Linked DNA regions of Homo sapiens. The protein of the gene in region 1 interacts with the protein of each later gene in a pairwise test. Each region holds a gene or a part of one and is shown in the gene's direction. Other genes may lie near its edges.

The links. The genes of interacting proteins can lie anywhere in the genome.
Region 2: the proteins of RBBP9 (region 1) and RCBTB2 interact in binary tests that used the Homo sapiens proteins (3 or more experiments, as listed by UniProt).

Annotation. Positions count from the first base shown.
Region 1 is NC_000020.11:18,494,181-18,501,975, reverse strand, and holds the start of RBBP9 (serine hydrolase RBBP9), read left to right. Parts: upstream 1-4,750; 5' UTR 4,751-4,808; coding exon 4,809-4,907; intron 4,908-6,095; coding exon 6,096-6,138; intron 6,139-7,795.
Region 2 is NC_000013.11:48,529,665-48,537,655, reverse strand, and holds the start of RCBTB2 (RCC1 and BTB domain-containing protein 2), read left to right. Parts: upstream 1-4,575; 5' UTR 4,576-4,628; intron 4,629-5,606; exon of another isoform or gene 5,607-7,991.

The DNA of each region.
Region 1 (7,795 bases):
AGACCGTGAGTTTGAAGACTTAGAGACAAACTTCCCACAGAAAACATCCTGACCTGAAAAGAAAAATCCAGGCAGAGGAAGATTATTCAGCAGGAGGGCCTCAGTGGAGGGAGGGTGATCCCTTTAGAAGGAGGGCCTCAGTGGAGGGTGGAAGATCCCTTTAGAAGGAGGGCCTCAGTGGAGGGTGGAAGATCCCTTTAGAAGGAGGGCCTCAGTGGAGGGTGGGTGATCCCTTTAGAAGGAGGGCCTCAGTGGAGGGTGGGTGATCCCTTTAGAAGGAGGGCCTCAGTGGAGGGTGGGTGATCCCTTTAGAAAGAGTCAAACTGTCTCAGCAAGTTCTTGAGAACAACTTCTTCAATATTAGCAAATGAGGTACCAAATATAAAGGTGCATTTTCAGATTTTTAAAAATTCACAAAAATGGCCGGGAGCAGTGGCTCATGCCTGTAATCCCAGCACTTTGGGAGGCTGAGACGGGTGGATCACGAGGTCAGGAGATCGAGACCATCCAGGCTAACATGGTGAAACTCTGTCTCTACTAAAAAAAAAAATACAAAAAAAAATTTAGCTGGGCATGGTGGTGGGCGCCTGTAGTCCCAGCTACTCGGGAGGCTGAGGCAGGAGAATGGCGTGAACCCGGGAGGCAGAGCTTGCGGTGAGCCGAGATCGCGCCACTGCACTCCAGCCTGGGTGACTGAGCGAGACTTCATCTCAAAAAATAAAATGGACAAAAATGTTGGCTTTTAGCTTTGAAACTAAAACTGTTTCTTCTGTGATAATGATAAGCTCAGAAATTGTTTGTACAAGAGATAAAAAGTAGAAAACAAAACGGATATATGTAATTATAATCTTCTCAATTATTATTGGCATAAACAACCTAAGATGAGAGTTAATGTCACTGCCTTTTTTCTCCTTCTAGAAGAATGAGCTAACTAAATCTTAAGGGAAGCTAGATTGCTAGATCCTTTTTCAGCCCCCAGTTCCTGTTTAGGGAGTATCACTGCTTCTTGAACTAAAAACTACTAAGCAAACAACCAGTTGGTTATAGGAATGTCTCTGCTTGTTTTATGTTGACATTTTATTCCTTTTTTTTTTTTTGAGACAGAGTCTCACTGTGTCACCCACGCTAGAGTGCAGTGGCATGATCATAGCTCACTGCAGTCTCCCATGCTCAAGTGATCATTCTACCTTAGCCTGCTGAGTAGCTGGGACTACAGGTGTACACCACCGTGCCTGGCTAATTTAAAAAATTTTTGAAGACATGGAGTCTTGCCATGTTGCCCAGGCTAGTCTCAAACTCCTGGGCTCAAGCAATCCTCCCGCTTTAGCCTCCCAAAATGCTGGGATTACTATTTTTAAATTTGAAAGAGTTATATTGAGGTATAATTGATGTACCTTAAGCTGCACATATTTAAAATGTACAATTTATTAAGTTTTGACACCCATCACCACAATCGAGATAATAAACATATATATCACCCCCAAAAGTTTCATGTCCCTTTGTTAATGGTGGAGGGTGTCCAGTTTCTTAGCGTCTTGAACAAACAATTAGACGAAACGCACAAAGAAAGGAAGGAAAGAAGGGTTTCATTGAAAATGAAAGTACACTCTACATTATGGGAGCAGGCCTGAGCATAAGGCCTCAAAATCCCCATTATAGAATTTTTGAGCATTTAAATACCCTCTACTTGGGGTACACCCTATGTAAATGAAGAGGATGAAGTAAAGCTACAAAGTCATTTAGTTGGCCTACACCCTGTGAAGAGGATATTTCCTGTCATTACCGAAGTGTGAATCGGCCTTCTGTTCCCTGCCTCCAGACCCTATTTTCCTGGCTCATCTGCCCGCTGAGAGATGTGATCCCCATAAATCTTTATGGGAGGCAGAGGGACTGATGGTCTTTTTTCTGTAACTGCTTCATGCTGGCTTGGGGTGTAGTCCCTACCTACTGGTGATCATGGAACTCGCCCTGCTCTATCTAGTGGAGGCAGGGTAGTTTCTTGATGGCTAGGGGTGGTGTCTTCACCTGGAACTGGCTGGAACCTTTGTTGCATGATCATCTGAAGCTTGATGGTCTCCAGACGAGAGGAAATTAATTTGGTTAAAAGATTTAATGGGATGGCCGGGCGCGGTGGCTCACGCCTGTAATCCCAGCACTTTGGGAGGCCGAGGCGGGCGGATCACGAGGTCAGGAGATCGAGACCATCCTGGCTAACACGGTGAAACCCTGTCTCTACTAAAAATACAAAAAATTAGCCGGGCGAGGTGGCGGGCGCCTGTAGTCCCAGCTACTCCGGAGGCTGAGGCAGGAGAATGGCGTGAACCCCAGGGGGCGGAGCCTGCAGTGAGCCGAGATTGCGCCACTGCACTCCAGCCTGGGCGACAGCGAGACTCCGTCTCAAAAAAAAAAAAAAAAAAGATTTAATGGGAACTTCATGGGGTGGATACCTACGCTGTCAGAGATGTTTGTTATAGAGATTTGCAGAAAAAAAAACAAAACCTAGTCTGTTCTAGAATCTATGTTTCCTTGAAGTCTTAGCACAAGCAACTCCATTTTGGTTTGGTTTGGTTTGTTGGGGCCTAATGCATGAGCTTAGTCCAAAACAATGGCCTCGCAAAATTTTGTGCAAAAAATTCCCCCTTTTTGGTCAGGTTCTCACTTAGGTGAGAGTGTGACCAAAACTTAGGGCCTTAGCGCCACTCTCAGTTACCATCATTTTGGGTTTCGGTCTCAGCACATCATTTATAGGTTTTGGTGTTCTCATGGTTGCACATTTCTTTCAGCTTTTGTCATTCCAGTTGAAGAGAGAACATCTGACGTTCTAGAGATGACCGCGTGCAAACATTTAAAACCTTTGAGAGAATACAGCACACCAGGGAGACTATTATTATAAATATTGGGAGGATAACACCAAGAGTTCGGGGTATGCTCCTAAACCCAAGGCCCCGATAAACCAAACCTCCTAAAATCAAATAGATCAAAGAATGAGCTAGATAAAGGGTTTACTCACTTGACTAAGCAATTTCTTCGTTAATCCTCTACCACTGAATTTATTTTTTTCTTTTTTCCTTTTTTTTTTTTTTTAGACGGAGTCTTGCTCTGTCGCCCAGGTTGGAGTGCAGTGGCACAGTCTTGGTTCACTGCAACCTCTGCCTTCCGGGTTCAAGCAATTCTCTTGCCTCAGCTTCCTGAGTAGCTGCGATTACAGGCACCTGCCACCACGCCTAGCTAATTTTTGTATTTTTAGTAGAGATGGGGTTTTGCCATGTTGGCCAGGCTGATCTTGAACTCCTGACCTCAGGTGATCTGCCTGCCTCGGACTCCTAAAGTGCTGGGATTACAGGTGTAAGCCACCGCGCCCAGCCAATGAGGGATACATTTCTAATCATTGCTTCTTTTACTTCAAACCATGGTAAAAGGACCTAACAAATGATGCCTTTCTAGAAGAGTGAAGGCCTACTGGCAATGTTTTCTTTAACCCATGATGTGGGTTAGAGGAGTGAACCAATGTTTTGTTTTTGACTGATTATGAAGCAATGCATGTACCATTAAAGTTTCTTACCTACTTCGGGCCTTCATCTTTTATCTATCAAAGTCTAAGTTTATCCATGTATAAGGCTGGCTGCAAACTCCTTCACAAATAAAAGTATACCCCATAAGTGCACATAACAGACCCCTTTTCCACTTCTATTGTTTGTAGAGGCATAAGGAAGACAAAAAATATTGAAAGATAAGAGTTTCATGGTAGTAGAAGTCTTAATCTGTGAACTTGGGAAAAGCTGTTCACATCAAGGATGCCATTTTCTTCTTGGGAGAAATTTCCCAGGGTAGCTTTACCTCAAAAGTTCCAATGGGTGCACTGTTCCAAAAGTGTGGAGGGACCGTTCTCATTTGCGAGACCATGAACCCAAAGCCCAAGGTCCTGAAGTTTTGTTGTAGTGTGGATGACAAGGACAGTCTTCTCCAATGTTTCCAGAAAATTCAAACCATAAAAAGCTTTCTTTACCGGGGGAAAATACACTGTAGCATAATAATCTACTGTTATAACATCAGCCCTCTTGCATGGGAAAGCTTTTATACAACCAGAATGACAAATTGGAATTCAAATAACAATTGAATGAAATCCCCTTACAAAATGTTTAAATGGCCCACCCGGTGACCAAATGTACATGAAGCTTTGTTTGTCTTCCCAGGAATATGGGACTAAGCATTGGTTATAAACTATTTTAAACAATTTCAGTATCAGCTGGTTTAATATGAAAATCTGACGAAGTATTTTCTTGGTATTTAATTAAATTTTTGCTTGTTTTACTTGGGTTAGTAGCTTTATGCAAGGAAATTTCATTCAAAGCAATGAAAAACAACAACCAGGGCTGATACTGACTACTAAAAACTGTTTTAAACTCAGAAGGAAAAATAATATGGATTTCAGGCGTTCCCAGGTTATAAATGGGTTTTCTGCATGTTTGAAACCAAAAACAAACTTTCCTATAGAAATATCAGTAAATCTAGCAAAGAAATAACACACCCCAACCGTGTCATAGCCTGTCTTAAATAAGGGAAAAACATGAGAGCACTAGTAAGAGGCAAGTAAAGGGTGCTTTGCTTTACAATTGATGGAAGCTCGCAGGCTTTGTTCTTGGCTGCCCCACGCAGCCAGCGGAAGGCAGGCCAAGGAGGAAAGAGCCCGGCCTCCCAGGTCCCCGCAACTACAACTCCCAGGATGCCGCGGCGCAGGCTCCCTGCGGGAGCAGGCTGGGCTCAGCTCCGCTGGACCCGCGCTGGGGAACTCTGGCCTCGCTGCACTCATGGCTTCTCCTAGCAAGGCAGTGATTGTTCCCGGGAACGGAGGCGGGGATGTGACCACCCACGGCTGGTATGGCTGGGTGAAAAAGGAGCTGGAGAAGGTAAGCGCCCAACGCCGCTGCTCCGTGAAGTCAGCCTGGAGGGAGGGACGGCGGGAGAGGACTGAGGGCTGAAGTTTGAATAGGCGTCTAATCCCCTCTAGCAAAGCCCTGTGTGTTTTCCTGCCTCTCCCCCGCTGCCTTCTCTTAAAGTCTGAGCTAGTGGTCGAATTTTGACTGGTAAAACTGCCTGGAAGACTTCTCTGAGGGCTCAGCCTTTAGAGTTAAAGGAACCCCTTTGAACTACCGAGGCTGAGCCCCTGAGCCCCGCCCCCCGTATCTGCTGCTGGTTCAGATTTGGGACTTCCCAGATAATTTTACATGTTCACTGCTTCCCGCTTCAGCTTTTAAAAAATTAAATATGCTATACTTAATATATACAAAGGATATACGTAACATGCGTCTACATTATGAGGCATAATGTAATGAATTACCAAACTAAAACCTGGGACATTGCCTATACATCATCTTCCAAACGACCCTTATGTCTACCCATCTCAGTCCCGTGCCATCCTGAATTTTTTCATCTGCTTCTCTTTTTAAAATTGAAGTACTTTTCAACCTATGAATATACCTTTTAAACAACAGACTGTTCTATTTGGCTTCTTGGTGAGCTTTATAAAAGTGGCATCTTACTGTAGGCTGACCTGTGCCGTTTGATTTTTATTTTTTAACCCTCTTCTGTAACCAGGCGGTAAGTCGGCTCCCTGGGTTGCTGTCCTCTAGAGCGGGTCTCCAGAATAGATTGCAGCGCTGTGGCTGAAAACCCTGGTCAGAGTTACAACCCCAAAGGTCAGGGCTGGAGCTTCTGAGAGTATGCTGTCTCCAAATTTCTGTATCACGTTCCTGTGCCACGTTTTACCTACTCCCTGGAACACAGTCTATTTGGCTCCAGGTCAGTCTGTCTAGAACACATTTGTTCATGCCTCTCTATAGATGCAGGCCTGTAGAGGCAAATATGGGTGTACAAATGCAGATATAGGTCTCTCTATAGAGATCAGCAGAGCTGCCTAGATACAGAACTACAGATGGAGTTCATGCGAAAAGATGGTCACTTAACCTACTTCATTTCATAACACAAGTTAATACTGAATTGGTAACGATCATATCAGGTGCCTCATTTCTTATTAGCAAAGTATTAGTTGTAATTAAGCTCTTTATTATAGCTTTTTCTCCCCCCTCATATCATAGATACCTGGTTTCCAGTGTTTGGCTAAAAACATGCCCGACCCAAGTAAGTTTTAAACTTGTTTTTAAATAGCCTCATCTTGTTGGGTTTTGATATTACCATTTTTGTGGTAGAGAACAAGAATATCATAGTGGAGGAACCAAAGATGCCTATATACCTAAGAAAGAATAAGGCAAGCAGCTTGGGGAGGAGGGTGTGAACCAAAAGCCATAGAAAATTCTTTTTTTTTTTTTTTTTTCAATTCTGTGAATTTGTCATTTTTATTTATTTATTTATTTATTTATTTATTTATTTATTTATTGATCATTCTTGGGTGTTTCTCGCAGAGGGGGATTTGGCAGGGTCACAGGACAATAGTGGAGGGAAGGTCAGCAGATAAACAAGTGAACAACGGTCTCTGGTTTTCCTAGGCAGAGGACCCTGCGGCCTTCCGCAGTGTTTGCGTCCCTGGGTACTTGAGATTAGGGAGTGGTGATGACTCTTAACGAGCATGCTGCCTTCAAGCATCTGTTTAACAAAGCACATCTTGCACCGCCCTTAATCCATTTAACCCTGAGTGGACACAGCACATGTTTCAGAGAGCACAGGGTTGGGGGTAAGGTCACAGATCAACAGGATCCCAAGGCAGAAGAATTTTTCTTAGTACAGAACAAAATGAAAAGTCTCCCATGTCTACCTCTTTCTACACAGACACGGCAACCATCCGATTTCTCAATCTTTTCCCCACCTTTCCCCCCTTTCTATTCCACAAAACTGCCATTGTCATCATGGCCCGTTCTCAATGAGCTGTTGGGTACACCTCCCAGACGGGGTGGTGGCCGGACAGAGGGGCTCCTCACTTCCCAGTAGGGGCGGCCGGGCAGAGGCGCCCCTCACCTCCCGGATGGGGTAAGCCATAGAAAATTCTAGTAAGGATTAGGAAAGCACCTGGGCATGGTAAAATTTAATTTTCAACTTTGCACCAACTTGATTTTTCCCTTCTATATGTCTACAAATATTTTCAGGCAGAATTTGTGGGTACTATACTTGAGGCATAGGTATAAAACTTTACAGCATCTATTTGAGGTCCTAATGTTTAAAAATGTCATATTGCTACTTTTGTTCTGGGTATGCCTATGACTTGTCTCAGGAATCCCCTTTTTGGAAAGAATGAATAAATGTGAATTTTAGAATGTTGCAAGAGTTTTTTTGCTTTTTTTTTTGAGATGGAGTCTCGCTCTGTTGCCCAGGCCAGAGTGCTGTGGCGTGATGTTGGCTCACTGCAACCTCTGCCTCCTGGGTTCAAGTGATTCTCCTGTGTCAGCCTCCCAAGTAGCTGGGATTACAGGCATGCGCCATCACGCCTGGCTAATTTTTTTTGTATTTTTAGCAGAGACGGGGTTTCAGCATTTGGGCAGGCTGGTCTCGAACTCCTGACCTCAAATGATCTGTCCACCTCAGCCTCCCAAAGTGTTGGGATTATAGGTGTGAACCACTGCACCTGACCATTAGCTTTTTTTTTCAAGTTTGAAAGTTTACATTAAAATTTCAGAGTTATATTTTATTATTTCCTTAGTATTTTCTTACAAGAACATGGTAAACCAAAAAAAAAAAAAAAAAAGAGAAAAGAAAAACTAGTTACCAAAACTGTGGACTTGGATCTTTCAAGTAGTAATACATAAATCTTTGGTTTTGTTAATACAGTCTGGTCTCCTGCTGTGGT
Region 2 (7,991 bases), on another chromosome or scaffold:
AGAATTACATCAAACTGTAAATCTTCTGTACAGCAAAGAAAACAATCAACAGAGTGAAGAGAAAAGCTAGCAAGTTGGAGAAAATATATGCAAACCATGCATCTGTTAGGGCGTTAATATCCAAAATATATAAGGAATTCAAACAATTCAGTAGCAATAAAACAACCCAATTTAAAAATGGGCAGAGGACCTGAATAAACATTTATCAAAGAAGAGCTACAAATGGCCAAGTAGATGAAAAAAAGTTCAACATCATTAATCATCAGGGAAATGCAAGTTAAAACCACGATGAGATATCACCCCACACCTGTAAAGATGGCTATTATAAAAAAGATGAAAAATAACAAGTGTTGGCAATGATGTGGAGAAAAAGGAACCTTTGTTGATGGGAATGTAAATTAGTACAGGCATTACGAAAACCAGTACAGAGGTCCTCAAAAAATTAAAAATAGGACTATTTTTAGCAATCTCACTACTGAGTATATGTCCAACAAAAATGAATCAGTATGTTGAAGAGATATCTGTGCTCCCATGTTCACTGCAGCACTATTCACAATTGTTGAGATAAAGAATCATCCTTAGTGTCCATTCATGAATGAATGGTTACTTTAATTTCCTACCATTGCCCTATTCCCTCCATATAGCCTTTGTTTCAGCCTTACTGAGCAATTTATAATTCTCAAACACATCATATTTCTTATTCTACTTAGACTACTTCCCTTCCCTAACACTTCCATCCCTAACCTTTGTTCTCTTAGCTAACTCACACTGACTCAGCCTCCCAAGTGGCTGGGATTACAGGCACCCACCACCATGCCTGGCTAATTTTTGTATTTTTAGCAGAGACGGGGTTTCACCATGTTGGCCACGCTGATCAAGAACTCCTGACCTCAAGTGATCCGCCCATCTCCGCCTCCCAAAGTGCTGGAATTACAGGCATGAGCCATGGCACCCAGCCCACACTGAAAACTTAATGCTAAAGTAATCTGTTTTGGAAAGCCTTCTCTGATCACCTCTTGGTATTTTGTCATTCTTTCACTATTGCCACAGTAAGTGTATATGTGCCTATTATCATCTTTATCACTTTTATATTCTAACACCAATTATAATACCATGCTGACATGCACAATTCTATACAGCATGGTAATAGCATGCATCAGTAAAGGTGCAGTGTGACTGATACCTCTACAAAACACAGAGCTGGGCAGTGCACCAATTTAATGGAGTCTGAAGGAATTTAAGTTCTAGAAAACTAAGGTGCTACCCAAGGTCATTCACCTAATCAATGGCACTTAGGGCACCAAAGTGCAGGCTGCTTGCAGTCATTCATTCATGCATTCAATCTGTAACAAGCAGACTGATGTAGAAATTTACTGGTGCTAAATTTTTGTTCTGGAGACGCAAAGAGGAAAAAAAGAACATTTTCCTCTTCCCTGAAGCGTAATTAGACTTTCTGAATTTCCAAGAAAAAGTCAAAAGACGGCCCCATCCACCTTTTCTTGTGATTAGGGCCTTGGTGCCTGGATACCTGAAAAGAAAAAAGCAAGATGAATTCCTCTGCTTTTGGATAACTAAAGGAGGCTTAAAGATACCCCAAAAGCAGAAGTAATTAGGGGGTTTAAAAAGGGAAGAAAGGGAAGACTTTTATTGCAGCTAGATCCCCATTGTGGGCTGGAAAAGGACAAGGGCTCCTAGTTTCACAAGAGTAGTGTCATGAACTTGTTAGGACATAAGAAGTGGCAGGACTAAAACCATGTCTTGAAATAAAATTACTAAGGGAACGAGAAGATAGAGAAGTCCAAGAACCAAACTCTGGGTATGCCAATGGCTGGAGAAGTGGTGGATGAGCCAATGGAGCTGCCAGTGAGATGGACGAACCAAGAGACAGGGGCCACCTGAAGGCCAACAGAAGAAGATGAATGCTTCAAGATGGCAGCTGTAAGCAAATGCTTCTAATGCTGCTGATAGTTCAGGTGAGATAATGGAAAAGTAACCACTGATTTAGCAATTCTGAGGTCATTGGTGACTTTGCCAAGAGGAGTTTCAATGGAGGGGTAGGGGCAAAAGCCTGGCTGAAATAGATTCAAGAATGAATAGGAGGGCCAAGCATGATAGCTCACATCTATAATCTCGGCACTTTAGGAGGCTGAGGTGGATAGATCACCTGAGGTCAGGAGCTCTAGACCATTCTGGCCAACATGGCGAAACCCCATCTCTATTAAAAATTCAAAAATTAGCTGGGCATGGTGGCACACACCTGCCGTTCCAACTACTTGGGAGGCTTAGGCATGAGAATCACCTGAACCCGGGAGGTGGAGGTTGCAGTGAGCTGAGATTGCGCCACTGCACTCCAACCTGGGCAACAGAGCAAGATTCTATCTCAAAAAAAAAAAAAAAAAAGAGGATGAATAGGAGGAGGGGATGAGGATACAGTTAGTATAAGTGACTCTTTTAAGACATTTTGGAAGAGACCAGAGAACACATTGGTAGCTGATAGGGGACATATAATCAAGGAACTTTTTAAAAGATAGGCAAATGTTGCGCAATGTTAATATGCTTATGGGAATGATCCAAAAATTAATGATACAAAAATTAATAATGTAGGATTGAGAGGTGACAACTACCTGAGTGAAAACCTTGAGACTGTAAGGAAGACAGGATCTAATACAAAGGTGGAAGAGTTGAACTTAAATAAGAGCATGCACAGCTCATTCCCAGTAATGGGAAGGAATAGAGTGCACAGGTACAGATGTAGGTAAACTTGGGAGATGTGGTGATGGGAACTTTAACTCCTGAAATACTAACCTATACTCTCTCAGAGTCTAAATTTTTAGTCTACTGAATTCAGCAATACAGTGAAGTTTAGTAGACCAAATTATCCAAAAGTGTTGAAGGAAACTTATATGTGATGGAGACATTTTTACTTCTTACTTTTAATTTTGACCGCCCTGGGAAAAACTGTTGGACCCATATAAAATTAAAATCTTTAGTGAAACACATTCTTTTATAGGTATATTTTAAAGTTTTAACTTCTGAGATAATATCACAGTTTTCAAAACACTAAGACATGTTTTTATTGTTAGCTAATTGTCAGGCTTCAGCTGAAGCACACCGTAAGGCCTGCATGAACTTCAGCTGTCCATAATGCGTAAAAGACCAAGTGCGCAAGGCAAACAGATCTTGCCATGGTTGCTGATGAAAGAAACTTAATCTCTTGGGGCCTGAGTTGCCTTATCTGTAAAGTAAGGATAATCCTTGCCTTACAGGATTATTGTGAGCTCCAAATAAGATAAACCTCTTGGCACACAATAGGTGCTTAAAAAAAAAATGCCAGCTATCATCACTGAAGTGAGCTTTTTCTGAGAGCAAACCTGTTTAACTCATAAATTTCTTTCATTGATAAGATGTAACCAGTGGAGAAACTTGGGGCAGGCACACGATGCCTCTCTGCACTATCGCTGCAACTTCCTGTTAATGTATACTTACTTTTTCTTCCATTTAGAGCTCTACAAGAAATACCTGTGTACCATTTTGCGTGCCTCCTTCTGAGGCTCAGTGGGCTATGCTCAGAGAATAGAGATAAATGTCTGCCCTATGTAGCAGAAAGGCAGTTATACATTTTAGAATGATGTTTTTCCGAAGAAATGACAAAAGCCAGACGAAACAGACTGACACGGTCACTGTGGTTTGGAATGTTAGTTTTTCTCTTTGGCTTTACTACTTTTGGCTCTACACTGTAGAGGAACCAGTGTCCTCATGAAACAGCCAGTATAAAAGCAAGTAGCTTACTTCACAGGAATAGCTAATAACATTTAATTGTTGAGCATTTAACCAAAACCCACTCAGGTCAATTTAAGTGTAGTGCAGTGGAAGAAATTATTGCACACTGCAAAGTTGTGGTGCATTTTACTTAAATCTACAAAGGCCAACAGAAGTGCAGTGTAATATAATAAATTACTGCAAAATATAATCATAAGGGGAGAAGGTGGCTGTTTTCGAAGCCCTTGGCCCCAAGGTAACTGAGGTCATCCCCCTGAACCCCCCAGCACACATCCTCATTATTTCAGCATTTGTACTACAGGGGGCTACAAGACTTCCGCCCCACAGCAATGGGGTGAAAACGTGAAGTGATCGGAGCCCCCAGATAGAGGGGCCAGCAATAGAAGAAAAGCTGGGGCAGGCTGGAGGAGAGGGGCTGTGGAAAAGGTTGCTCTCAGCATCATACACGCCTTATCCTTCTAGGTCGGGTATCCACAAATTCCCAAAATTTGCGAGAACATAACCCTGGAGAAGGTGGGGGTGACCCACGGAGGAACTCCCTGGAAAAGCGGAGGCGGCCCCAATGGGAGACTCCCGGGGGTCAACTCCGAGGGGAGGGGGCGTCTGCGAGAAAGGGGAGGGGCGGCGGTGGGCAGCCTAGGGAGGAGAGGAGGGGCGAGACGCCGTCGCCAGCCCCCTCCTCTTGTCTGCGCTCCCTTCGTTTCCGTCTCGGCCGGGCACCCGAGCGCATCCCGCCGAGGCCGGGCCGTTTCAGGGGGAGGCGCCAACTCATCGCGGCGCCGGGCCCCTGACCGTGCAGTAACCGCTACCCAGGAGGCGGAGCGGACAAGGCTCCGGCCTGCGAGGAGGTAAGAGGGTGGAGGAGTGGTGTGGGAGGCCGAGGGGGATCGCGGCCGTGACGTGGGATGCTGTCAGGTACCACTGGGGCAGGCCACCCCTCCCCGCCCCTGCGGCCCGACCTCCCCGCCAGAGACAGCTGAGGGGCCCAGGGGACTAGAGCCGCGACCGTGCCACAGGCCTAGGCGTCGTCGCGCATGCGTAAAACTGCTGGCGGGAGTTAAGAGCTAGGTTCCGGGGCTACACCCAGCCCAGGCCGCAGGCAGAGGCGGCCCTGCGCATGCGCAATTCCGCTGGCGTGGGCCCGGTGCGCTGCTCGCGACTACATCCTGCCCAGGCCGCCGGCCCAGGCTGCGCTGCGCATGCGCGAGTCCTCTGGTAGGGGTCGCGTTTGGCGTCGTTCCAGGGTGATCATCTGCTCGGAGGCCGCTCTCATCCTAAGCTCCCACGTCTGGTGTGGCTGGGGGGGCGTCACAGGTCCCGAGGGAGCGTCCTGCCTGAAGTTTCTCCCTCCTAACCCACTCGCTGCACTGCATATGTTGCCGATGTTTTCATTTCTGTGGCCTCGACCCCTAGGCTCCCGTCCCATAAATCTAGTACCCCAGGTCCCGGGCACCGGCCCGGCTCACTAACTCAGTGGCAGTATATGCTTTCGACATTTGGTCCTGATGTCCAGGAATAGCGCGAAAAGTTTGACTTTGTTAGGCGAAGCCGTTTTGGAACTGCGGAGGGATGGGAAGAAATCGCCGAGCGTCTTAAGCCGCAACATAGTGCTCTGCTCAGCCCTGGAAATAGAGGTTTTCAGACATTGAAAACTTTCCAAGTGCTCCGTCTTGGCGGAGAAAGAACTGAGTTGGAAGGCTAATTTAGAATGAACTTTTTGCTTTTGTTCTTTGCAAAAATTACATAAAATGTTGCAACAGTTCGAGACCAGGACTATAACAAAACGCATTTCATGGAGCTACTTTGTACCGCGCTTGGCGACTTACCTTGTCAGAGCTGAATAAAAGTGGTTGAGTTCACAAACAGTGCTCTGGATCGTTGCTCTTTCCCCCAGACACTGTTTAACGTTTATTGAGCCTCCTGGCTTTGCACCTTCCTAGTATTGCGTTCCTGCTGGGTTTTACACCTTACTAGACAGTGGGTCTTAGTTAAGTCAGTTTCGTGACTCCTGGGGCTACTGTGAAGAGTTTCTAACAATGTCATTACTCTGTGCTTTGTAATCTTATATGATGTGCTGATACAGATATTTGGGGGCTGGAATAGAAGAGCCACTTAGGCTCAGAGAATGAGTATTCTAGGTGAAACGTAATCTCTTTATTTCCTGCTAGACAGTACATGCGTGTTATTAAGCAGCAGGTAAAAGCAACAAGAATGATACGTTCTTGCATACCCCACTTCCACCACTCAGGCCTTATTGCTCTTGCTGGGCTCGCCAAGCGGACCCTCATCCCAGGGCGTCTGCGTTTGGTATTTCCAGTATGCTCAATGCTCACTTTCCCACTCTTCGCAAATCTGCATGGCACAGAACTTTATTTAAGTCTTGAAACAATTGCCATCATTTCAGAGAGGTGACTACCTCACCTAAAATGTCTGGCTCTCCAAACTCTTGTACTGCTGGTTCGGCTTTGTAGCACTTAATCACCATCTGATATTATATATTTGTAAGGGTATGATCAATCTATCTCCACCATAATTGAAGCTCAGAAGGTATTTGTTAATTGTAGAAATAAAATTGGAAACTAACTTACTCCAGAGATATTTTTTTACTGAACTCAACCTAGATTCATTCATTTATTCAACAAAAATTGATTTTCTATCACGTCCTGTCCTTGATGCTTGGGATGCATCAATGAACAAAAGAGACAAAGATCCCTTCCCTCTGGAGCTTACATTCTAGCAAAGAATGATAAAAAACATATTTGTATATTAGGTTAGAAAAGTACAAATGCTATGAAAAAATGAAAAAGGAGAACAGAGAAAGGGAATTGGGAGTGCAGGTGTGGGTTGCAATTTTAAACATCATGGGTACGGTGAGTCTGAAGGATAAACCAAAGGTGATGTTTAACATGGGGAACTGGGTTTTAGAAATAAATGTTCTTCTGGGAGAAAACGTTCTTTATCGTGCTCTACAATGTCTTTTATGGGAGCCCACGGCATGACCCTTGTGATAAACGTCACCATTTTTTATAGTATATAGGTGAAAAAACATTTTTTTCCTAAATAAGAGTTCAAATTATTCAGGAGTTTACAGTTTAACTTAGCACATCAAATGAAGACACTGGACTTTTACAAGGAAGAGCTAGCCAGACATCTATGTAAATTGTGCTGAGAAAAACTGTACGTTGTCTCCACAGTTTTTGCAATTGCTTCTAAATGTCCCTCTGACTGTGGATGACTAGTGAAGATCTTTTCTAAGAATGGTCATTGCTTTTCTGTATTTGAAACTGTGTAGGAGAGGAGCTTAAATCACCTGGTGTGATGTTATGCTATAAATGACCTCTCTTACAGGTATCTGAATGAACCAGATAGACCTAACTAAATTTCAATCCATAATTAAAGAAGGCTTAGAGAAAGAGGGTGATGGAGAGGAATAATTTTAGAAAGTAAAGTGTGTTTCCCCTCATGTCCTTTACTTACATAGATTACAAATACTCTGTTCAAACACCAAAATATTATTAATCTAGGACCATAAATGTAAGGAGTCCATGGAATTTGCTTATGCCCTATGAAATTGTCATATTCAAGTTTGGTTTTATCAGTTGGTTAAAGTAAAATTTAAATGCCCCAAGATACTGCTACTGTTGAGGTTTACTTGGATTTAAATTACTACAAATCAGGCCGGGCGCGGTGGCTCACCTGTAATCCCAGCGCTTTGGGGGAGACCAAGGCAGTCAAATGTTCTTGAGCCCAGGAGTTAGAGACCAGCCGGGACAACATGGCAAAACTCTGTCTCTACAGAAAAACGAACAAAAAAAAAATGAGCCAGGCATGGTGGCACACACCTGTAGTTTCAGATACTTGGGAGGCTGTAGTGTGAGGATCACTGGAGCCGGGAAGGTTGAGGCTGCAGTGAGTCATGATCACACCATTGCACTCCAGTCTGGGCAATAGTGTAAGACCCCATCTCATAAATAAATAAATAAATATTGCTACAGATTAAAATTGTCCAGGAAAAGGTAGATTGGAGACCAGGAATTATTGGGGTTACAGAGTGACATTAAGGACTCTTGTTAAAGACTAAAAGAGAGTTCTACTTGGAGATTTTACTTCAAAGGAGTGGATGGCTTGCCTCCTGGTAAGGGATATTGATAATGTCCATCAATGGAAGGCTGAGATGATACTTCCAGCTTTCATTGTCTGGAAGGAACATG